6 separate regions of the Homo sapiens genome follow, and all the other regions are reported to be linked to region 3. The links are microRNA targets in miRTarBase. Many come from high-throughput screens and were not tested one by one. Region 3 holds a microRNA gene; each other region holds the end of a gene's coding sequence.
The links. Region 3 holds the annotated microRNA hsa-miR-26b-5p (UUCAAGUAAUUCAGGAUAGGU, at 1,097-1,117, opposite strand). A microRNA usually pairs through its seed, bases 2 to 8, with sites in the 3' UTR of a target mRNA and lowers its output. Matches are read on the target gene's strand: a 7mer-m8 pairs with bases 2 to 8, a 7mer-A1 pairs with bases 2 to 7 and ends in A, and an 8mer does both.

Region 1 (4,089 bases), not on the chromosome of region 3:
CATGCCCGGTAATTTTGTTTTGTTTTTTGAGATGAAGTCTCACACTGTTGCCCAGACTGGAGTGCGATCTCGGCTCACTGCAGCCTCTGCCTCCCGGGTTCAAACGATTCTCGTGCCTTAAGCCTCCCGAATAGCTGAGACTACAGGTGTGTGCTACCATACCTGGCTAATTTTTTTTTTTTTTCAGTAGAGATGGGGTTTCACCATGTTGGCCAGGCTGGTCTTGAACTCCTGACCTCAAGTGATCTGCCTGCCTCGGCCTCCCAAAATGCTGAGATTACAGGCATGAGTCACCATATCCGGCCTCTACACATTTTTTTTTTTTAATTAGCTGGGCATGGTGGTACGTGCCTATAATCCCAGCTCCTTGGGAGGGTGAAGTGGGAAGATCACTTGTGCCCAGGACATTGAGGTTGCAGTGAGCTAAGATCATGCCACTGTGCTCTAGCTTGGTGACACAGGAAGACCTTACATTAAAAAAAAAAAAAAAAAAAAAAAAAAAACCTATGAACATTTAACAATTATAATCAGCATTTATTCGGAAAAACTTAAATGATGTACATAATCATTACCTAAAAACCATTTTGAAAGAATTTACGACATCAAATGGCAAAAGTGTTTGTGGAAATTGTAATGCATACTGGGCGATGGCTCAAAAGGCCAATGTTGAAAGCTATCACTAAAAATAGATGCTTAAAATGTAACATGGAGGGGAAAGAGGGAACTTGGAAAAGATAAAGGTATATTGGTTTTAGGTCTAATAATCACAGGTAAGAAAGTCTTTGTTTAAAAAACAAGCCTGGGCCGGGCGCGGTGGCTCACGCCTGTAATCCCAGCACTTTGGGAGGCCGAGGCGGGTGGATCATGAGGTCAGGAGATCGAGACCATCCTGGCTAACAAGGTGAAACCCCGTCTCTACTAAAAAAAAATACAAAAAATTAGCCGGGCGCGGTGGCGGGCGCCTGTAGTCCCAGCTACTCGGGAGGCTGAGGCAGGAGAATGGCGTGAACCCGGGAAGCGGAGCTTGCAGTGAGCCGAGATTGCGCCACTGCAGTCCGCAGTCCGGCCTGGGCGACAGAGCGAGACTCCGTCTCAAAAAAAAAAAAAACAAAAAAAAAAACAAAAAAAAAACAAAAAACAAAAAAAAAAAAAAAAAAAACAAGCCTGGCAGGGGTAGGGCAGGGAGGGGTTGCTCATGCCTTATACTCCCAGCACTTTGGGAGGCCGAGGCGGGCCTATCACCTGAGGCCAGCAGTTCAAGACCAGCCTGGGCAACACGGCGAAACCCCGTCTCTACTAAAAATACAAAAATTAGCCGGACGTGGTGGTGCACGTCTATAATCCCAGCTACTCGGGAGGCTGAGGCAGAAGAATTGCTTGAACCCAGGAGGCGGAAGTTGCAGTGAGCTGAGATTGCACCATTGCACTCCAGCCTGGGCAACAAGAGTGAAACTCCGTCTCAAAAAAATAAAAAACATACCTATTTAAGGAGGCTTTTTTCCTTAGTTTTAGTTGGTGTTGATAAGCTCAGCAAAGGAGCTTTAGGGTAATACTTGATGACAGCAAAATGAAGGAAACCTTACTGAAGGTAAAAACTTAGCAAAACACTCCCCAGAGGGACAAAAGTTTTTTGCAAATACAATATACTTACTTATGCTTTCTACCAGTCACCAACACAGAAAGACCAAAAATTGTGTATGAGAAAGTGATATTAAGATTTGAGATTTTATTCTAATTCAGTGGCATCAATCATGTAAAGAGCCATGCGGTTGAAGTGGTCCGCTGTGGCACGCAGCCCCACAGTGATGGTGCGCTTTATGCCCTGTTCATGTTGGGGCAGCCTATACCATCTAGAAACCACAGCTGCAGTAACCATTGATATATAGACCTGTGTTACTTCTACAAGTGTTCCATTCCAACTGTACATATGCTTTAGAGTTCAAAATCTAAGTCCAGATATACTATTATAATGGGCCAGGTCCCAGACATTCTTCCTCACACCAACCAGCTAGTCCTTTTGATCTTACTCCGAACCCCAATGTACGAAATCTGAAGTGCTTGTAAGGATTTAGAACAGCACAGACTACCCGGAACAAAGGAGATACAAAACATTTCTTAGCAACCAAAAATAAAAGGGAAATGGGCCACTGAGGCAGATGGGTCTCTCAGATTAAATGCCATATAAATTGCATGTGTGGAACCAAATACAGCAGAAAACCCTCAGTTAATGAGGCATAGCTTGGTAAATTGGGAACTTGATGAGGGTTTTTAACGTAATCTGGTATCACTTAGAATGGCCTTAGTTTCCCATTCTCTCAGCACCTTCACAGAGGCCCACATGCCTCTGACATCAAATCTGTCAAACTTGGGGACAAAGGACATTAACAGTTCTTGAAAGGTGACCTTAGTTAATGATACCCACAGATACTAATTTCATTACTTAAGGAATCTGTGTTCCTCAGAATTTCCAGAATCACAAGTGATACCTGCCAATTACAGTTTAAGTTACTAACGGATATACAACTCTTCAAGGCAGAAACTTAAGTCTCATTATGTTGGTTACATATACTGTTTTTATTTGGGTTTGTTGAATGAGAATAAAAACACCCCAGTTTCTTCTGCAGGTCGAGCCCTTCTCTATAACGGTCATTACAAACAACCCTGAAGTGGCTGGAATATAGTCAGCAAGGGGCCCACATGAACAGCTCATCTGGAATCTTTGCAAGTACGTATTTATGTCCTTTGGTGCCTTGCACAGTAAGGCACTGTTAATGACGTAACAGAATAGAGGAAATGCCCACAGCAAATAGTTCTAGTGACAATTTACTAGACAAGTTACAGTTTAATAATGGTGGTGGTGATTGTTTCTTTCATTTTATTATTATTATTTTTTTACAATAAGGGTGTAGCCTTTATACTCCACACACACAAAATAAAACAAGTGCTTATTACGAAAAGAGTCCCTGCCCCCACCCCCTAGAACATCCTGAACATAGCAATTCAACAGAACAGAAAAATCAAGACGTTTGATTTCAAAATTTCAATAAAAAAGCAAAAGTATGTAATGCAACAGCTGTTCAACTTCCAACTCTAAATAGGCACCATTAAACAAAAAACCCCAGTATTTTAAATTTCTCCAGCACACATTCCAGGATCAATGCTCTGAACTGTAATCAGCTAGTAATTCATAACGGGAATACAGCCTTAGAATGGAAGCTATATTGCTTCCCTGCCCCCTTTCTCTTACAATTGGAGAGTGTAGGTATTAAGGGATACAAAGTCAGAGGAAGAATAATTAAAAAGAAAAATGCCCAAAGCTGCAGCTGTTTGGACTAGGAAGACAGCATTTTACAAACGTTCAAAAAATCCCAAGGCAAGTAACACAATTTGTTCACTAGCACTCTTACTTGAAAGAATAAAGAGATCAGCATCTTATTATATAAAACTGTACTTTCAGAACTGTATTACAGGTTCACCAGAAACTATGGATGTAGTTTTAGGCATCATCAAGGAAAACAGGTTCAGTTCAGATCAAGTTAGATACTGTACATCTAGCCTAGCTGGATCTGGTGTCTGGATCTGCTCACTGTCACCCTGAACAGCTGTGAACTAAACAATAGTACGTAACTCCGTAGGAAGCTTAAGGACTGAAGAAATGTACACAGCTAGTTAGATCTCCCCTGCTTCGCGCTCTTCAGAGCTCCTCCTGTCTTCTGATCTGCCATTAGCACTCTCATAGGACCGCTTCTTATCTTTCCGATCTCTGTCACGAGGTGATCTGTCTCTTGAACTCCTGTCTCTGTCACATGATGCTAAGTCTTGGTCTCTGAATCTTTCTTTTGAGGATCTGAAAAATATTAATTTGAGGAGCAAAATATGTTGGGAAACCCAAAAACCCAAATTAAAGAATAGGATAAATATTAAGCTCTTGATAGCTGAAGATATATAGACGAATATACCCATGACAGAGGAGTCAGTTTTCTGACAAATTACAGAGCACTACCATAGTTGATAAGGGCATTAAAACAAGAAGATGGGTGAAAAACAAATAGCAGAGGGTCAGAAGGCTAAAATAATTTCTTACAGGCT
Region 2 (4,078 bases), not on the chromosome of region 3:
GTATTATAAAATCAAGACATTCTGATATGGGTAAGCAGAGATCAAGTAAATGGGCCAATAGTTGGCATAAACAATATGATGGTTATATCTGAATACTGATTTATTTATTGCATTAATTTCACCTTCATGTCTTTACCATACTGTTTTTTTTTTCTGAGCAGACTACGAAGTTAGATATTCAGGTGACTTTCCATAAGTATTCAGTATTGTTGCCCTTTGTTCTTGTTTGTAAATTCAAGGAAAACAATGCCAATTAGACTTGCATTTAATTTGCTTTGTTCAGTGCAAAATGAAAGTACTCAATTTCTACTTGATTAGAATGGCTAAGCTTACTAAGCTAGAAATGTAGAAGGTAATTTCAATATGAATAATCCATACTCAATAAAAGAGAATTAGCTATGTCAAAAATATACATAAATATGAGTAATACTTGAAACCCAGTAAACATGTAAGAAAACTATTTTGCAAAGATAAGTACTCAGTGTTCATCATTTTCATGCTCTCCCATGGTAGGTGGCTGGCTGCAACAGAGCTATATTAATGAGCAGCATCAATGTTATTCTTTTTTTTTTTTTTTGAGAGATCAGTGTTATTCTTTAGGCCGCTATTCATTTTAACCGTGCATATTTAAATGAAGCAAGAGTCAGCAATTTTGTTATAACGAAAATATGGCATCCTATAGCTAAGTATCTTGAATACCTAACCTCTGCTTATTTTACCCTTTTAACTACCACATGATGCTTTGATTTTAAATGAAAAAAATATATCTGTTTTCCAAAAAAGATTACAAAGTGAGTACTTTGTTTTAGGGTTCATATTTATTTTCCAATTACTTTTATTGATCTTACAGAATAGTGTCTTGGTCTCTCTACTGCATTCAACAACACCAAAAATCTACAACGCTGGTGTCAACAGCAATAATTACTAAAAATTGAGCAAGCAATTTATGACTATCCGCAATTATGGAAAATGGATTCAAAAGGCATCTGCTGCAATAACAATAGTATTTATGTGTGTTAAGACACAAAAAGCCAACATAACTTTAGTACCTCAGGCATTTTTCTAATTGTGATATTTATACAAATTTTGGAAATTGATGAGTACACTGACCAGTCACCGATAATCATGAAAAAGAAAATACACATAAGTGCCTATTTAGCTAATACTGTGTTTAACTCTAGCTTGACATTGTGTGATACTGTAATCCCTTTCAAAGCACTGGAAATCACTCACATTTGCCTCAAGCTTTTTTTTAAAACAGAAGAATAATCTGATGAAGATGCCCTTATTTCAGAAACTGAGGTCATTACTATCTTTGCTTGAAACATTTTAGAAGAGTTGCTGAACAAAAAGAACACTCAATCTTAGTCTACTGGATAAACAGCGACATCTAGTGGTCATTGTATCCCTAAACAAACACCTTAAAAGCACAAACTCAAGTATCCATGAAATATATGAAATTGCCACTATCTTTAACGTATTTCCAAAGAAACTGTACAAGGAAATTATAAACACATTCTAGAAAGATTCCCTATGATTCAGGAATAATATAAATTGAAGGAAAAGTTAACCATGGACTTCTAATTTTTATTCTTAACAACTTTTTCATAGGTAAATATCCTTCAGAGGTTTTTATAAAAATCCAATTCTTATTTCTTCACGACTCAGTTCTTGTTTCTAACAGAGTGACATAAAGAACTCAAACACTATGAACTAATGAATAATAACTTCTATGGCTCTAATGAATACATGGATTGGTATGTCCCAGCAACAGATTCAGACACTCCATATGACAACACACTCATGTGCAAATTTTAAATGTTATAAAAGCTGCTACTCAATTATTGTTTGACTGAGTTTACTCTGGAGGTTTTATTAATTTTTTTGTAAATCGGGAACATATAGTTCATCAAGGTTTTCTAATACAACTAGGTCATGAAATGGAATTACAGCATCAAAATAGAATTAAAAAATCATTTTGCCATCAAAAAGTCATTGTTTCCTAGGTATGACTTTCCTATTAATGATAAAGTTAGTACATTCTTTGGCTACTGTTGTTCACTGGGACCTCGGCACATCATCTCTATGCCTGCTACCCACCAGACACCAGAAATGGCTTCTAAGGCCTTCATGGCCAGCTCCAGGGAAACTGTCTTCCTGTCACCATGAAAGACTTTTTCTGAGCACAAACCATTTGTTGCAGTTCCAAGGTTATTCATGGGACACACCGAGACTGTCCCTTCCACATGAACTGAGGTATCCCCCCCAAATCCCTTAAACATACATCAGTGAATACAGGTATGCATCACTATCTACCCATTTAATTCATCTTCCCTAGATTAACTGCCAAGTGCTAAGACTAGACCTTTCTAACAAGTCTTTGTTGATGATCATAAACAGATGAAAGATCTGGACAACAATTTTTGTGTTTACAGACCAGCCTCCCCAAACGAAGAATGAACATATTTGGTGCTCCCAGATCATCAAAATACCCACTACCCAGCCAATACCTAGACATGCTAGTGATTAGCTGGGACATTCACCTAAATGCCACTTATGTGTATGAAGAGGGCTACAGATGCCACCCTTTCTACCTCCCACTGACTGGACATGACCATCCAGAGGAATGGTATCTCACAGGCACCATCTAAAACAGTAAGGAACCATTACCACTTGGTAATTCAAATTGCGGACCATCTGAAATGGTAAGGAATCATCTTAATATCACTTAAGACTTTTACAGAAATGCTAGGCAGATGTGTTCCAATGAGCATCAAATTTCTAGTATATAAGCACTTAATCTTACTAAAGCAATGTGTGTGATTCATAAGCATTTAAAATTAACACTGAGGTCAAAGTATACATATAAAGCCTGGGGTTCTCTCCAGCCCACTATCCCCAGTGATTCCCTAGTCCTCTCCTAAGAGTTCTCAATTACAGAAGTGTATGTGTGGGCAGTAGCCACAAGTAACTAAATGTGAGGTTTACCAATGAGACAGGCAGCCATGAACGTTGGAGGCACCCGAAGCTTACTTTCTATTGCTCTACCCTATACAGACTTCATTCTCTCATTTTTCCTTCTCTTATCTCTTTGCCTTCCTATTTCTGCCTGGAGCTGGCAGTTGTAGAATAAAGCAATTTTGTGTCCTATTGCTACCTGAACCCCTGTGTTGTGTAACAAAGATGACTTCTGAATTTTAGGAAAAAATACTGCTAACTACTCAATAAGACAGACTCAGAGAGCCACGGGCAATCACAGGGTCTAGCTAAATGCTTGGATGAGCTGCCACGACAAGATCCCAACAAACCTAGAAATAATTTGGTCTGGGTCTAAATGCTAATATCATGCTGCCAAGCCTCTTTCTGAAAAGCATAAAAGCAAAATATCCCACTCCTGCAAGCAAACCAACCACAAGGGTCGTGCCAAGAACTTTTGGGGCCCTTTTCTTGGCCACCCGGAATGCTGTTGGCAGCACTGCAGAGATTAATATATTGTTGACATGTCCTAAAACCTTGTTAAATGTTTTTCTCTTCAAGACACGCTCGTAATAGGTTTCCAAGTTTGGTCGCTTTCCGTTTCCCCAGTTTCTCCTTGCAAACCCCAGGAACTTCAGTCGATGCAATGTGACAGCGAGTGAGACGTCTGCCAGGGTGAAGGATTCACCGCAGAGCCAAGGTTGCTGGCCCTCTTCTAATTAGAGAAAGGGACATAGAGAATTAGAGGCAAGCACTCTACAGACAGACTCCAGCTGGTATCAGTGGTCTCACCCTTAAGGGTGAGTGTGAGTATAGCAAAAGATGAAGGACATTATATATTTATTTTCTTGACAGCCACACTCAGAGAATAATTTCATGCTTTAAAAAAAAAGTCCATGCAAACGTATCCTAGGCCAAAGGAGACTTGCTTGACGTCTGTCAGCCATCCAGGTCCCTATGTAAGATTGCAGCCACTTGAGCTTATCACTTTGTAAAGGACACTAAGGGGTTGGGAGCCTCCAAGCTAGTTAAAAGAAACTTCCTTCTGGTTTATAAAAACAGTTCTGCTTTAGAAAAATCCATAAAGCTGAGTCTGAAACAT
Region 3 (4,089 bases):
TTTTCTATTCTATTTCATTTTGTTAAAATTCCCAATCAGAACCCACTAAATTAATTCTGTGGGCCATCAGTAGGTCACAACTGGCAATTCGAAAAATTGAAACTTTCCAAACTCCGTTGCCCTGTGGGGGCCCCTGTGCATGGCAGATGCTCTGCTTTGTGCGAGGGGAAAAGACCATATGGCTACAGGGCAGGTGGATGAGGGGAGTGGGCGGCAGGCACAGGCAATGAATGCAGGAAGGACTGGGAGGGCACCCACCCCCCAACTGGGGATCCAAGAGGCCAAGGTGGCCTGAATGGACTGACCCCTTCCTGGGTCTCAGCTCCTGTCCCAGTCCCAGTCCAGCCCGCACTCACAGCATTGTCTGGATGGAAGACATAGGAGGCAGGTGAATTGTCCAGGATGAGCACCCGCCGCAGGTCTCGACCCAACCGGCTCAGGTCCTTCACGTAGTTCCCCCGGTGGAAGACGCAGGACTCTCGAAACAGCCGGGCCCGGAAGGCCCCCCATTTGTCCAGCAGGTCAGCTACTGGGTCTGCGTACTGGGAGCAGGAGGTGGGTCATCCTGGGGCCCGCAGGTTCATTGGGCTGCATGCGGGAGGTAGGTAGGAGGGCAGGGTTGCCCCGGGACCCCTGTGGGGCTCACCTTGGCGAGGCTAGCAGTGAACAGCACACATTCAAAGAGCTCGCCCATTCGCTGCAGGAACTCATCCACGTGAGGACGCTTCAACACGTAGACCTGGGGGGCGGGCCAGTGAGGGGGCTGCGGGCCAGTGGGGCAGTGTGGGGGTGGCCGAGGGCTGGCAGGGCATGGGCCAGGGAGGCAGAGGCGCACAGGAAGGAGACTGGGCCCGCAGGCTCCGCTTGGCCAGCTACCCTGACCACTGCTGGGGAAACTGTACCCACCCCCCGCCAGAAAACGATCAAAACTTCCACTCCACTGGCCAGTCCTACCTCACGAGGTCCCTAATTCCCAATCCCTTCCCCTGCCTCAACCTCAGCCTAGTGCAGGAATCCAGGGGCAGCCCCCTCACCCCAAGGCTGCAGGGCACCGGTCCCCGAGCCAAGTAATGGAGAACAGGCTGGACAGCACACAACCTATCCTGAATTACTTGAACTGGGTCCCGGGCAGGGTGGGGCGAGGGAGCACAGCACGGGGGAGCCTAGAGGAGGAGCCCACTCTGCAGGCTTGGAGTCAGCACAAGCCCTTGAGGTTCTGTGTGACTTTGGGACAAGTCTCACACCCTCTCTGGGCCTCTGACATTCCACATGTATCCAATTCCCATCCGAGGCGCTCCGGATTGGTGGGAAGAGCCTAGGGTCTGGAGGCAGATGCCAAGCCCACCACTGCCTCTTCCTGGCCCTCACCTGGTGGACCACCCCATCAATCTCCACAGGGATGATGAAGTCCGCGTTGTTCACTGGCTGTGGGGGGAAAAGAGCTGCTGGAGTTGGAGGAGGAGCCCCAGGGCATGGGGTCCAGCACACACCTCCCTCCCAGGCCAGGGTGGGGGATGCCCCCCGAGACCCGGGCTGAGGGCTGTTGAGCAGGGCCCACCTTGAAGGAGCTGTGCACCAGGGTCTCGTCCAGGTCGATGACCACGCAGATCTTGTCTGAGTCCTGGGCCTTGGCCTCAGGGAGCAGGTATTGGACTGGGGTCTGCTGTAGGGAGGGCGGGGCTGGCTGGGGTGCCTCTCTCCGGGCCTGGTCCTTCCTCCCACGCAGGCTTCTCCCCCTAGCCGTCTCCAGAGGAACCCCAGGCCCCAGGAACAGATACTTCCCCCTTCCCAGCTTTGCCCCTGCCAGCTCTAGGGCTTGGGTAGGCCTCTTGGCTCTTTGAGACCTCTCTAAAAACCAAGGTAGGAAAAAGCTTCCACTTATGAGGGAGAATTCAGTTTCCCCACAGTGGGCAGGGCCTGGCAGGGGAGGCTGCCACCCTCCTACTCTGCACCTTTCAGGTCTGCAAGTCCATCCTGAAAAGCTCAGTCAGGAGCCCCTTCCCCTAAAGCCCTGAAGACTGAGTCCAGGTGCCCCCGTGGCCCCACCTGGCCCCCACGCACCTTAGGGATGGCGCCATTCTCCTCCACAAGCAGGGGCGCCCCGCTGTGAGCAGGCAGGGCCTCCCCATCATCCCGGCAGACACAGCAGAAGAGTGAGTGGAGGATGCCCCGGCTTCGGGGCTTCTGGGAAGCTGCTGACTTCTGGTCACCTGAAGTAGGGAGGCACAAGTTGGAGGCTCGGTGCACACTGGCCTGCAGAATCCTGCATGTGTGCCCAGGTGTGAACCCCTGAGCCAGGAGGATCTTGCCGTGGCCCCTTCATCCAGACACACGAAGGCAGCTCCTGACTTTCTCTGAAACGCCCCTGTCAGGGCTCCACAATCAACTGCAAGGCTCCTGCAGCTCCCAGACAAATAGGTCTAGCAGGTATTAAGGCGCCCACATAGGGAGTGCGTGGCCTGGAGAAGGAGGTCCTGGGGTGCTCTCTCCCTGCCTCTCACAGCCTCCATGACTGCTGCTGATCAGCCCCATTGCGGTGCCTCCTGACCCCACCTTACCTGAGCACCCCTGCTCAGGACAGCCAGGGCCTGGGACCCAGGGCAGTCCACCCCTGCCCTCCCTCCATCCTCTCCACCCCCGTGGGTACGAAGTCCTCACTGCGGCTGGGCCCAGAGGCAGGGGTGCAGTCCCGCGGCCTGGGGCCAGTGTCCAGTGGCCATCTGTTTGCCCTGCCCCGCCCAGACCTCCGACCTGGAGCCCAGCAGCCTGATTGACAGATACCCCTCCCACCCCACCCCCCTCCGGCCCCCTGCAACTAGCCTTTCCACCTTGCCCTCAGTTCCGGGGCAGCCAGACCCAGGCGAGGGTGGGCAGACCTGGGGGCAGCGTCCAGATCCTGAGGTCCACACGGGGAAAAGGAGAAGACAGACCCCCCCACCCCGGCCCAGCCACGCTGGGGGACGCAGCCTCGTCGGGGCGGCGAGGCTTTGCGGGGTGGTGCGTGCCCACTAGGCGCACGACTCTCCCCGCGGGCGCCAAGCGACTCTTGGAAGTGCCGGCCGTCCTCTCTGTGCCTCCGAGGGGGTCGGCGCCTCCACGCGTGACGCGAAGTTTGTGGGGAACGTAGCTGTGTGTTGGCGGGAGATCCCTCCAAGCCTCCCCAGCCTGCTGTCACCTCGGCGCCCCCTCCCAAGACCCTACCGGACCGCAGCCCGGGGGGGTGGGGGTGGGGGGTGGGGCGGAGTCTCAGCGGGTGGCCCATAGGCGCCCTCCTCAGCTCCCCCATCTCCCAGCCCCATTGGCGCCAATGGTGGGGGGGCGCCCATGCACCACGCAATGCCTGCCAGGAAACCCCCGAAGAGTTCCCTCTCTATTCCTGCCTCAGTTTCCTCACCTCGAGCGAACAGGAGCGCCCCAAAGGCGCCAGGCCCCGCCCCGCGTCTCTGAGCCTCCTCTGAGTTCAAACTCTCTCCCTGCTCCCTCTCGGGCTGGGAGCTTCGGGCACAGCTAAGGCGGCCGCCCGGGGCGGCGGCGGCGGCTCCCCTGGGGAAGATCCCGGCCCCTTCTCTCCTCCCACGGCGCCCCGGCTTCGGCCCCCTCCCCGCAGCCCCGGTACCTTTGCCCCGCAGCGGGCCCCGAGCCTCCTCCTTGCTGATCTGAGTAATGACGGCCGAGCTGTCCATGGGGCCGGGCGCGCTCCGCTCCGGCCGGACTCTGGCCCGGGCGCCCGGCCTCCCCCCCGGCTGGGGCCGGAATCGGGGCGCGGGGGGGAGGGGAGGGGTGGGAGGGAGGGATCCCCGCGAGCTCCGGAGGGGAGGGGAGCCAGGTTCTAGGGGGGAGGGGGAGGGAGGGGGCGCGGAGGAAACTTTGTTACAACATGGAGTTTCCTTCCCGCGAGGCGGATGCAAACATGGAACCCAGGCGCCGTTTCAAGGCTCCCCCTTAAAAGGGCAACGGCTTCGGCGTGACCTGGACTCGGCTGCGGCTTTCGCCACTTCTGGGACCGGCGCGGCTAGGCGGACTGGGAGGCGGGCCGGGCCGGGTTCCTGCCGCGCTCCAGGGGGCGTCGCCTCCCTTCCTGCCGCCCGC
Region 4 (4,089 bases), not on the chromosome of region 3:
TTTCTACAAATGTTTTTATTTTGCCATACTGTGTTAAAATCTCATGATTTTGTCGCTATGTTTTGTGTACTGATAAGCTGTTGAGACCATACACTAATTTTCATCTTCAATCATTTTGCCTATGAATGTGTGGGCGTAAGGACAGGGTAAAGGAATTTCATTTTTTTCTTTCTGGGAACATAAGCCTTTACCAGTGGAACTTATTTGTTTGGGGTTTTGCTTTGGAACAGGACTCCTTAGATGAAGCCCGACAGAAAATTTTCGACATCCGGGAAGAGTACAGAAACAAATTGCTGGAAGCTGAGCACCTAAAGCTGGAAACTCTGGCTGCTCAGGAAGCAGCCATGAAGCTGGAGACAGAAAAGATGACCCCAGCTCCTGACACACAGAAAAAAAAGAAAGGAAAGAAAAAGTAACCAGGGGATGTCCAATACTACCCTGCTTCTGGAGAGAAAAAATCTATTTGTAATGATCTTTAACTGCCTGCTGTTAAGATATTAGGCCAAATGAAAATAGAAATTTCTCTTTCTTAGAAATATTTTAATGCTAACTTGTTAGTTTTCCTCAGAAAGCTAGTATTTGAAGCCATTTGAGTTTAAGATGCTCTAATTTCAATAAAATAGCTTCCAAATATTTAATAAAATATGTTTGACACTCTAAACTGCCTGCATTTTTAATTAGAAGTGAAACAAGTTCATAAATTAAGCAACATGATTATCTTTGAAAATTTCAGCAATGAGAAAAGTGGCTTTTGTTCTTAGAAGAAATTTAGTCTTAAACTTTAAAGGTTTAAAAATACTAATAACTATGCTTCAGAATTATGCCTTTTTTTTTTTTTTTTTTTTTTTTAAGACTGAGTCTCACTCTGTTGCCCAACTGCAGTGCAGTGGTATAATCTCAGCTCACTGCAACCTCCACCTCCTGGACTCAAGCCATCCTCCTAATTTTTTTCTTTGGAGATGGAGTTTCACTTTTGTTATTGGGGTGATCATACCCAACACCAGGTCGTGGGGGTGACAAAGTCCAGCGGAGTCAAAGGATTGAGAAAAAGACAGTTTGAGAGAGAAAGCTGGGACCAAGTGGCCATTGCGATCGTGGAGGCCGCGAAGGCCTCGAGCTGTGGGAGCCCACGCTATTTATTGGTAATCAACAAAGAAACAGGTGGTGAGAATGTGGAGGTCAAAAGGGCAGGCGCATCATCTACAGCTGTGACGGTTTAGCATTTATGTGGAACATGTTCTGCTACTTGAGATAATGGGAATAGGAGCCTAGGAGGGCTAGAAGCAAGGAGCCAGCAAGTCTAGACACATTCCAGAGGACATTATGTCAGACATGCAAGCCCTGCCTCAGTTTTTGTCCCAACACTCAGCTTTTTCCTAACACTTGTTGCCTAGGCGGGAGTGCAATGGCGCAATCTCAGCTCACTGCAACCTCCACCTCCTGAGTTCAAGTGATTCTCTTGCCTCAGACTCCTGAGTAGCTGGGATTAGGGGTGTGGCTACCACGCCTGGCTAATTTTGTATTTTTAGTAGAGACGGGGGTTTCACTAGGTCGACCAGGCTGGTATTGAACGCCTGACCTCAGGTGATCCACCCACCTCGGCCTCCTAAAATGCTGGGATTACAGGCTGGAGCCATGGCACCCGGCCAATTTCTGTAGAGACAGGGTTTCGCCATGTTTCCCAGGTTGTTCTCAAACTCCTGAGTTCAAGAGATCCATCCATGTCAGCTTGCTTCCCAAAATGCTGGAATTACAGGCATAAACCACCATGCCTAGCTTAAAAATATTTAATACTCCCATATATGGTCGACTAATTTTGGACAAGGATGCCAAAAATACACATGATGAAAGAAAATCGTTTCAAAAATGATGTTGGAAAAACTAAATATCCACATGCAAAAGAATAAAATAGGAACATTGCCCTATGCTGTATAAAAAAATTAAATAGATTAAAGATTTAAATGTAACATTGGAACTCATAAAACTCTTAGAAGATTGCCTACAAAAAAATCTCCTTGACATTGGTCTTGGCAATTTCTTTTGGAGATGACACCAAAAGCACAGGGAACAAAAGCAAACATAAACAAGTAGGACTACATAAAAATAAAAAGCTACTGCGCGACAAAGGAAACAACAAAATGAAAAGACAATCTATAGAATGGGAGAAAATACTTGTAAACTGTATATCTGATAAGGGGCTAATATTTAAAATATATTAAACTCATGTAACTCAATAGCAAAAAAAGCAAATAACCTGGTTTTAAAATGGGCAAAGGACTTGAATAAACACCAATCCAAAGAAGACACAGGAATGACCAACAGGTATATGCAAAGGTACTCAGCATCATTAACCATTAGAGAAATGCAAATCAAAACAACAATGAGGTATCACCTCACACCTGTTAAGATGGCTTTTATAAAGACAAGAGATAAGTGTTGGGGAGGGTGTGGAGAAAGGGAACCCTGTACACACTGTGGTGAGAATGTAAATTGCAATAGCCATTACAGAAAACAGTATGGAAGTTTCTCAAAAAATTAAAACTAGAGCTACCATATGATCTAGCAATCCCACTCCTGGGTATATATTAAAGGAAACGAAATCAGTATGTCTATGAGAGGTCTGCAACCCTCTGTTCATGGCAGCATTATTTACAATAGTGATATGGAAACAGCCTAAGTGTCCATCAATTGATGAATGAATAATGAAAATGTGGTATATATATATATAATGGAATATAATTGAACCATAAAATAGAAGGAAATCCTGCCATTTGCAACAACATAGATGAACCTGTAGGGCATTATGCTAAGTGAAATATGCCAGAAACTGAAAGAAAAATAATGCATAATCTCACTCACATGTGGAATTGTGAAAGTTGAACTCATAGAAGCAAAGTGTAGGACAGTGGTTACCAGAGACTTAGGGGTGAGAGAAATGGGGAGATGTTGGTCAAAGAGTACAAACATTTAGTTATAAGCTGACAAATTGTGTATCTCAGGCACAGAACGGATGGTGCCATCAGAATCAATAGTAGTAATTAAATTGAATATATTAATCATTATTCAGTGTATACATATATCAAACCATCATGTGGTATACTTTGAAAATATACAATGTTTATTTTTCAAAAAATTTTTTAAGTTTACATGAAAAAGTTAATATTTTATACACCTCCCCAGTTGTATATGTAATGTTACTTAATAAATGCAAATGTGCATTTTTACATTATTCTTTGCCTACTCTTAGCTTCACAACCTTATGACCCCAGCTCCCAAAGTACATACATAGAAACAACCTATTTTGAATGTTTCCATATTTTTCATTCATCTCATATGCTCACACCTCAATATTTTATATTATATCCTGGTTTGTTTTACAAAATGGCATTCTTTAAAGCATAATACAATGTGTCTTGCTTTTTCTCACCAAACAACACAGAATCTCTTGAAGTCACTGTTAATTCTTTTTAATTGTTATGAAATATTCCATGGTACAAATATACCATAATTTATTCATAAATTTATGAATTTTATATATACATATATGTGTCTGTGTGTATATATATATTCAGGTAGTGTGTGTATATATATATTCAGGATATTCAAGTACTAACATTAATATTATATATTCTTTAAGTTAGATAAAAATTCATCTGCAAACAATTTGTCATTATAATTTAAATGATGTATTTTTGATCAATTACTTTCTTTCAGATATTTTTTGCTATTATTTGTTTGATAGTTTTCACTTGCTTTCTTTTACTTTTCTTGCTGTGCCTTTTTTTTTTTTTTTTTTTTTTTTTGAGATGGGGTCTCCCTCTGTCTCCCAGGCTGGAGTGCAATGGTGTGATCTCAGCTCACTGCAACCTCCACCTCCCAGGTTCAAGTGATTTTCCTGCCTCAGCCTCCTGAGTAGCTGGGATTACAGGTGTGTGCCACCACGCCTGGCTAATTTTTTTTTTTTTTTTTTTTTTTAGAGACAGGGTTTCACCATGTTGGTCAGGCTGATCTCGAACTCCTGACCTCATGATCCGCCTGCCTTGGCCTCCCAAAGTGCTGGGATTACAGATGTGAGCCACCGTGCCCAGC
Region 5 (4,089 bases), not on the chromosome of region 3:
GGTATGTATCTTACATTGATAGCACATCTCACTTTGTACTAGCCACATTGCAAGTGCTCAGTAGCCACATGTGGCTAGTGGCTACTGCACTGGACAGCACAGTTCTAGGTTCCACCCTAACACCCAAGTCCTGTGGATTAGAATCCCAGAATCAGAGCTGGAAGTAAACATAGAGATCAAACCTCCTTTTAAAAATGAGGACGCTGAGGCACAGAGTTTAAATGGCTTGCATGAGGTCATACAGCTAAATTCAGCCTCAACAGGGTCTTCTGATTCCAGGCACTCTTCCCACTCCACTACATTACTGTAGTGGTAATTCTTAGGGTTAAAAAAAGTGTAGAGTAGGCCGGGCGCAGTGGCTCATGCCTGTAATCCCAGCACTTTGGGAGGCCGAAGTGGGCGGATCACGAGGTCAGGAGATCGAGACCATCCTGGCTAACATGGTGAAACCCCGTCTCTACTGAAAATACAAAGCAAAATTAGCCAGGTGTGGTGGCGGGCGCCTGTGGTCCCAGCTGCTCTGGAGGCTGAGGCAGAATGGCGTGAACCCAGGAGGCAGAGATGGCAGTGAGCCAAGATCGCGCCACTGCACTCCAGCCTGGGCGATAGAGCGAGACTCCATCTCAAAAAAAAAAAAAAAAAAAAAAAGAAAAGAAAAGAAAAGTCTAGAGTACTGTTTTTATGATACTTTCGTGCAATTTGTAGATATATTCTTTCTCACGAAAATTCAAAAAATTGACTCGCAGTAGAAAAAAGGAACATAGTGTATACCATAAAAATATGTCACTTCTAACAGCAAAAATCAAATTTAGTTGAAGAAAACTAAAACATTTTGAAGGAAACACAAACCTTAGGAGAGCTACGGTATCATACAATGCATGGATTAGATTTTGAGTCCAGGACAAAAGGATCTACAGAAAAATATTAGAGCGAACTAATAAAGGATCAAACCATGCACAGAGTATTCAACTGGCTATCTGCCCACTGGTCTATGGAATTGAACAGCCCCTCCTCTTGCAAAGAGAAAAAACTGCCACTGTGAGAGGCAGCACTGGTCTCCCTCTAGAAACTCTGCCTCTCAAATCCTGGCATCACGAGGGCAAGTCTGCCCCCATCTGCTTTTGAGGCCATCCAGCTATGATGGCCTACCCTGCCACCCCTGGCTTAGGCAGACTCTTTGGAAGCCAAGTCTAACCTGCAATGGTTCAGTCCCCTAAAAAGTGATATTGGTAGGCAGGCCCCTCTGCTCAATTTAGAGAACACAGGGGATCTTTCATACTTCTTTAGACTTAACTATAACACTTAGGCTGCTGCACACCAATTCTCCCCATCTTGTAGGATTTCTTTGGCTCATTCTAAACCTGATGTCTCTCAGGTCCTCAAGTGTCGGACCAGGAATGGTGCCAACCCTCCAACATTGCTGGGACACTATCAGTTCAAGAGGACAGTGTGCCAATACATCCTTGCCCACGAAGCCCCTGCACATTTCACACTTGAAGGAAACATTTGCTTTTGGTTATTGTCTGTTGGTATGTTTGTCATTAACATGTCTGACAGAAGTTCTAATCTATCACCTACAGCTAAAGAAATAGCATGCAGGGTCAAAATAATGCTTTGTTTTGGCGAGGGGCTCTGAGGGAAATTTTCTGGAAAGATGTAGCACCATATAGAACAGGAAACTGGATTTGAAGCCCACATTGAAGTCTGAGGGCTGCCCCATGAGTTCCCAGCCTATCTGACTTTCATTTGCGAGGCACGAGAGAGAAAATATGGGAGCATACTTGGCAAGCTATGAAGAGCTACTGAAGCAGAAAGTGTTATAAAGTATGATCCCCGAGAAGGTAGACATGCAGTATTTTAAATAATCTTAATTCTTATACTCAATTTGAGCCACCTCTGGATTAATTACTGTTAAAAATGCTCTCCAAATTTTAAATTATAACTAGAAAATTGGTTTTTAAATTATTTCTCATTGCCTCATAATTTTAAACATGTACTTGTCATTTTGTTTTATTACCTTTGGTTACAGGCAATAACTGTAATTGCCTAATTACTTAGAAAGCTACAACTAGTTCCTGGGTCAGTTAGTTAATCATTTAATCTGTGAGACCAATGTTTTCCCAAATGTGTATAAAGAAACTGGTTTATATACATTAAACATTTAAAACTCTATGAATTTAATGTGTGACTGAATTTAATGTGTGACTTTACACAAGACATTTAATCTGCCCGGGCCTACTTTTTTCCTTTAGGACAAATCTATCCCTAAGTATGTTTCCAATGTCAAAAACCTAATCTATCTATAATAGAGATCTTCAGTGATTATATTAAATCTTTTTTTTTACTTTTTTTGAGATGAAGTCTCACTCTGTTGCCCAGACTGGAGTGCAGTGGTGCGATCTCGGCTCACTGCAACCTCTGCCTCCCAGGTTCAAGCAATCCTCTCGCCTCAGCCTCCCAAGCAGTTGGGATTACAGGTGTGTGCCATTAGGTCATGAGGCCTTTGCGCTCATGAATGGACTGTCATTATCGTGGGAGTTGGTTAGTTACCTCAAGAGTGAGTGCCTGGGTAATTTTTTTTGTATTTTTAGTAGAAACGGGGTTTCACCATATTGGCCAGGCTGGTCTTGAACTCCTGACCTCAAGTGATCTGCCCGTCTCAGCCTCCCAAAGTACTGGGATTACAGGCGTGAGCCACCACGTCTGGCCTATTAAGAGTAAATCTTATATGCAGAGGTTAATCCCCAAGATCTAGGGCCCAAGATCCTTCCTTTTCTGTAAGGAAAGCTGAAACTCTTTTGACTTTCTGAGTTTTAAGCAAGAAATCATCTCACTTAAAATTCATCTTAAAGTGCTCAACTGAGCATAAATATCCCAGCTCTGTGCTTGCCTAAGTCTCCAAAGATCAAATACAGTATTCAATGTGATTATGACTATAAATTGCACTGTCCCTTTAAATGTTCAAGTACTCACTGTTTTCTTAAAGTGTGTAAGCCCTATCCTCAATTAAGGAAATTCGCAAGGAATGGAAAATGTTCCAAATTATACAAACCTACTATTATAAATGAATCTTAGACACAAAGGAAAACATCAATATATTACATTACCTCAACTAAAAAAAACTGCATCAAAAATAAAACAAAGCCAAAACAATATGTAAGTAGTATTCTTGGTTAGAAATATTTTAGCAAAAATATGGCAACTAGTGGATTATAAGCCATTTCACTGAATAAAGGAGTCTATAATAAACTTGGTTCTCTTGGGAGGAAAACGTATTTCCCCACATCCCTGTGACAGGAAGATGCAAATCTATAAAAAGTGGTAGAACATTAATAAAAGATACAAACAATATCAATACAGTACTTAAGAATAGTTGAGACAGTTTTTCGTAAATGAAATGCTTTAAAATGTTTCTCATTTTTGGAGTTAAAAATCAAAGGCTAGAGGGTCCACTGGATGTCACTGAAGTCCCCAGGGTCTCCCAGGCCCCCCTCTGCTTCTAAGTAATTCATAAATGCAGCCATGGCTGTGTCATCATTGTCACATAGGGCATCGAAATCCAACTGTGCACCATCACCTATGAATTAAAATACAGGCCTGTGTAAGTAAAGGTGATCAGTAAAGTCATACATTTCACACATTTTGAGGTTAAAAAATGATTGTGATAAAAAATGGCAAAGCAAGGCTAGAAAACCATAAAATGTATTTTTGAAGGCAAAGTATATATCTTAAGCTGCAGATGGCTGATGTATTTTTAAATGGGTTACCTAGTTTTATAACAATCTTCTGTCAGATAAATTGCACCTAATTCATCTGCTACAGAGAAGTAAGCTAGTCTATGAGTTTTCTAATAGGAAATTACACTGCTAAAGGGTACAGACTCTCAGAGAGCTGGAAGGAAGCTAGGAAATTTAGTGTATGTTTGTGTGTGTGTGTGTGTGTGTGTGTGTGTGCACGCGCAAACCCTGGAAGGAGAAAATTTAATCTGCTTATGAAAAAACCCTATCTGTTTAATACTGAAATGAGAAGCCTGAGACAGAAGCATCTTCTAAAGATTTGGAATTTTCTTATAAAAGGGAGATAAATCAG
Region 6 (4,075 bases), not on the chromosome of region 3:
CGAGGGACTCAGACCAGCTCTCCTGCCTATCTGGGGAAACTGATGTGATGGTGACTGCCGAAACAGCAGAAGCCAGCCAAACATTTGGGGAAGGAGATCAAGGGGAAGGCTGCAGCACCACCTGTGCTCAAAATAATGTGTTACCCCAGACAGTTCAGAAGAGAGAGGCAAAAGAGAGCATCCTGGCTGACGTTAGAAAAGAGTCTGTCTTTATTTCAGGTGATCAGGAAGTAAGGTGTGCAGCTCTTTCAACTCAGACGACCTCTGATCATGATGGAAAAGACAACTATCACTGGAATTATCTTCTTAGTTGGGAGCCCAAATTCCAACCTCTTGCCTCAGTATTTAATGATATTGCAAAACTAAAGGATGAACATTTGCATATGCCTGGCATTCCAAAAGAGAAGAAATCTTTTGTTTTTCCACCCCCTTTGATAACAGCAGTAGCCCAGCCTGGGATTAAAGCAGTCCCACCAAGAATGCCGGCAGTAAACCTGGGGCAGGTGCCTCCGAAACACCCACGCTCTCCCATCCCCTACCATCTTGGTTCTCTGCCAGAAGGCATGACTCCCAATTTTTCTCCATCTCTTTCCCTATTGACGATGCAGCCTCCTGCCTTGTCTCCACTGTTGAGAGAAGGAGAATTATTAGGAACACACATCAGTGGTACATGCCATGAACTTAAAGCAGAAGATGAAGTTCAAATATGAAACCACTGGGATGCCAAGTACCTGCTCACCATTGGTCATGAATGAATGAACAAAATGTTTTCAAGCCAGCAACTCGAGATTGGGCTCATTTTTATCTAAAAGCAAGTGATGTAATTTAGTTAGAGTTTTTAAAACTTCCCCATTAAAGTTTCTCCAATTTCTTCCAGCCTTAATGAAAAGTTATTTCCTCTTTTAATCCTTATGTGTTGCTCTCAGGACTCACATTTGTATATATTAAGTAGTGTATATTCTGTCAGACCTGTTGTCTGTATGATTAGACTTCCAAAGGACACAGTGAACTTAACTGACTGCCAGAATGTTTATATGGAAACAAAATATAGTGTACTCTGGTCACATTGCTGCTGATCACACTGCTATATCAAAAACAAACTAGTAAAGGCTAAATGGAGAATGAGTTTAGGTCAGAACATATAGCAGAGAGGGGAAGTCTAGAGGAATAAACTTTCATTTTAAGATAAAGCAATAGTTGGTGGATCTGATATATTTAGAGGAGTATTTCTCCATTTTTCCCCATATACCACACCTGTAGAGTTTAGCCATAATTGAATTTCAATGTGGAGTCTTTTGGAAAACTAATAAAAAATTCAGAAGGAAATTTGTCATAACTCTGTGACAATAGGGAGAAACAAATAGGATTTATAATGATAGGTAATATAAATAATTATTCATGATTCAATAAACCAGAAATGCATGTTCCTGATAGAGGGCCAGGATTGATACTCGCAATATTTATGTGGTTTGCTACCACCTGAAACATATTATCTTGGCCTTCTTTACAAACAGAATGGCTTTTTTTTCAGGTCTTGTCTTATAAGTAGGTGTGGGTAAAGACATTAAACTTCAAAGGTTAATTTATAGCAATGTCTTCATTTTATTTTCTTCTAGATACAGTAACTTTTTTGTGTGAAATAATTTATCCACTCAATGTCAGTTTTTAAAATTTGTGTAGATAAAAATCATGTCATTAGCTAATGATAAATCTCATAGAGTAATTTAGCAATATATTTTTAAATGAAGTTTTTTATGGAAATGTTTCTACTATAAAAGTTAAGAATAGAAGTCAGAAGTCTTTTTACCATTTGCTCACACACTTGCAGCTTTAATTTAACTGTCATTAGATGGAGCAGTTTGGCACATGGTTAAAATGACTCTGTACAATTACTATTTTAGAAATATAGCAGTGCTAGATGGTGCTCACATACAATGCTCTAGCCTTCTTTCTGATAAGCCTGGGAATCCCTCACAGATTCTCATCCCTTTCAGGAAGGTGGACAGCATCCTGACGATGGTGGTTCAGAAGTCCTCTTCCTGTGGTCAGCATGAGGGCCAGGTGTTAGGCTAACAGTTTAGGAATTCTAATGTGAAATCTAAAGGGTATCGTGTGGCTTTCTTAGTAGTTAGGATGGGCTTCTACTACAGATATAGTTCCTTTGTGTTCTTCTTCCATAGGCCTCATCTGTGAAATTTTGTGACATAATTTCTCTTTACTAAAAAATATTGCAAGGTGCAGTGTTTGATGTCTGGTTTTGTAGATAAGTAATTCTACAGCTTCCTATGCTGATATTTTCTATTATCTATCTATGCTGACTGAGATTGGGAACAAATGTATAAAGCTATATTACAAATTGTATGAAACATGAAGGTTTTTGAATAAGCCTGAAATCCTAGGAAAAATCCTTTAGGAGTAGAAAATTTAAATACTATGGGACTGATATATGATGTTTCTCCTTTTCTTCCTGGCATCTGGGGAAGAAGATTTCATGACTTATGTAAAAAAAAAACCCACACATATTTAATCATTTATGTGTTCCAGTATTTATTATCTCTGACTCTTTTGAAAACATTGCTTTGAGCATAGAAAGAAACCCTATACTATATTTTCCTAATTATATATGGAAGTTTTCTTTTCACAATAGAATTATTTCTGGAAACTAAGAACATTTTGTTGTTTTTAATTAAACAGGTTCTTCATTTACTTATGCTTAAAAAGAGTTATTCATCTACCTATTCCCTAAGTTAGTTATTTATTACTGTGATTTATTTACTCATTATGGATGTGATTCTGTATGTTTTCTAGCCATTGCATAACAAGAGAAGACATGTAATAGAGCTTTTTTACCAATATTTAATGGATTTTTAATTGATGGGTTTATCAGTCTGTATCCAGTGCCACAATGCCACCAAACAAGTACTACAAGTGGGAATGGGGTTAAAAATGTGAACACGCTGGTTAAGTGTTTGCAATAAATCGTATGTCAGCTCTTTCAACTAGAGTGCTTTTTTTCCTAAGTAAACAATATAATTTGTACATTTTTCCTTCAAGTTTAATATTAACTTGCCTCATATGTTCTGGGTTACTTTGCTGATCTATGCACTGGCTTTAGCACTCTGGAGGGGGTACAGAACTTGTTAGTGGAAAATCATATTAAGCCCCAAATTCATAAGCTATAAAATAAAAGACAGTTGTCTCTTGTGGAATTTTGGCTGCCTGATGAAATTCTGGACTTTCTTGTTGGCAGCCTTAAAAATACTGGTGTAAATCAGTACCAAATGGATATCAAAATTCCATGTCCTAGTAGTAATCATTGAATTGGCTTCCAAAACAGATTCCTGGGCAAAGAAAAAGAAAAATGCTGTATCTTTAGGGATTTGATCATTTAACTCTTTTAAAAATTATTAAAATGCACTCTACATTACTGGCTGCCTCCATGTATTCATATTCAATCTATAATAGACGTCCAGTTGAGACAGGATTTGTGTTTCTCAGCACCTTCACCTTTAGCCCTCCTTGCTGTGTTTTCTAGAAGTTATAGCAATGAAAATTAATTGTAAATTTTAGTTATTTTCATCCAAACAGACACTTTGTTACTTTTGTTCTGCCATTCTATACATACCTTAACTTTAAAAAGCAAGACATAACTAAGGATCTAAGATAATCCACTTCAAAGCAATAAAATATATGGCGTTAATATGGTCAGTGTATTCTCACGTGATATTCCAGATAAGCAAATTGAGTTTATTTTCACAGCGTGTTTTACTTGAGCTCAAAGGTATAGAGACATCTATTTGGCCATAACTGAAGGAACTTAGAATGGAAGATGGTCCTGTACAGGAGGGATACTGGGATCCAGTGGAGTTGCAGAAGATTTGCTTAGGACCCAAACGAAGCATTTCAGTGGGAGTTTTTACCCACTATAAAGATGGAAGGAGAAAAGTGAAAGAGGAAGGGAGGGGGAGAGGCAGGCAGGGACAGAAGAGAAATAGACAATTAAATCTTAAAATGAATAATTAGGACACAAGTAGAGAAATACAAGAAAGTAGATGGGTAGGGACTTTTAAAAAGT

Region 1: miRTarBase lists LUC7L2 as a target of hsa-miR-26b-5p. The part of its 3' UTR that is shown has no 7-base or 8-base seed match.
Region 2: the mRNA of GDAP1 is a reported target of hsa-miR-26b-5p. Seed matches in the 3' UTR shown: 7mer-m8 at 1,436-1,442.
Region 4: miRTarBase lists ADGB as a target of hsa-miR-26b-5p. The part of its 3' UTR that is shown has no 7-base or 8-base seed match.
Region 5: miRTarBase lists BMAL2 as a target of hsa-miR-26b-5p. Seed matches in the 3' UTR shown: 8mer at 2,961-2,968.
Region 6: miRTarBase lists DCHS2 as a target of hsa-miR-26b-5p. The part of its 3' UTR that is shown has no 7-base or 8-base seed match.

What each region holds. Positions count from the first base shown.
Region 1 is chr7:139,421,921-139,426,009 of GRCh38, reverse strand. LUC7L2 (LUC7 like 2, pre-mRNA splicing factor) reads right to left here. Exons shown (of 10, transcript NM_016019.5): 10 at 2,556-3,847. The coding sequence ends at 3,670. FMC1-LUC7L2 (FMC1-LUC7L2 readthrough) reads right to left here. Exons shown (of 11, transcript NM_001244584.3): 11 at 2,556-3,847. The coding sequence ends at 3,670. LOC100129148 (a long non-coding RNA gene) reads left to right here. Exons shown (of 3, transcript NR_033999.1): 2 at 2,625-2,725. Among named protein-coding and RNA genes, the nearest start is that of KLRG2, 60 kb to the left of the region's middle.
Region 2 is chr8:74,363,598-74,367,675 of GRCh38, reverse strand. GDAP1 (ganglioside induced differentiation associated protein 1) reads right to left here. Exons shown (of 6, transcript NM_018972.4): 6 at 800-3,691. The coding sequence ends at 3,309. Among named protein-coding and RNA genes, the nearest start is that of GDAP1, 15 kb to the right of the region's middle.
Region 3 is chr2:218,399,685-218,403,773 of GRCh38, reverse strand. It overlaps MIR26B (microRNA 26b), which reads right to left and starts at 1,128; the gene lies at 1,052-1,128. CTDSP1 (CTD small phosphatase 1) reads right to left here and starts at 3,906. Exons shown (of 7, transcript NM_021198.3): 1 at 3,617-3,906; 2 at 2,062-2,210; 3 at 1,559-1,663; 4 at 1,369-1,425; 5 at 647-739; 6 at 357-542. The coding sequence starts at 3,683. RefSeq lists silencers at 3,459-3,618, 3,779-3,858, 3,929-4,089.
Region 4 is chr6:146,814,802-146,818,890 of GRCh38, forward strand. ADGB (androglobin) reads left to right here. Exons shown (of 36, transcript NM_024694.4): 36 at 231-661. The coding sequence ends at 416. Among named protein-coding and RNA genes, the nearest start is that of ADGB, 220 kb to the left of the region's middle.
Region 5 is chr12:27,419,884-27,423,972 of GRCh38, reverse strand. BMAL2 (basic helix-loop-helix ARNT like 2) reads right to left here. Exons shown (of 17, transcript NM_020183.6): 17 at 1-3,577. The coding sequence ends at 3,441. The region is part of intron 1 of BMAL2-AS1 (BMAL2 antisense RNA 1); the gene reads left to right. It also overlaps a transcript of SMCO2 not described here. Among named protein-coding and RNA genes, the nearest start is that of BMAL2-AS1, 25 kb to the left of the region's middle.
Region 6 is chr4:154,231,171-154,235,245 of GRCh38, reverse strand. DCHS2 (dachsous cadherin-related 2) reads left to right here. Exons shown (of 20, transcript NM_001358235.2): 20 at 1-3,504. The coding sequence ends at 710. All of the region lies in intron 12 of LOC101927947 (a long non-coding RNA gene), which reads right to left. Among named protein-coding and RNA genes, the nearest start is that of DCHS2, 260 kb to the left of the region's middle.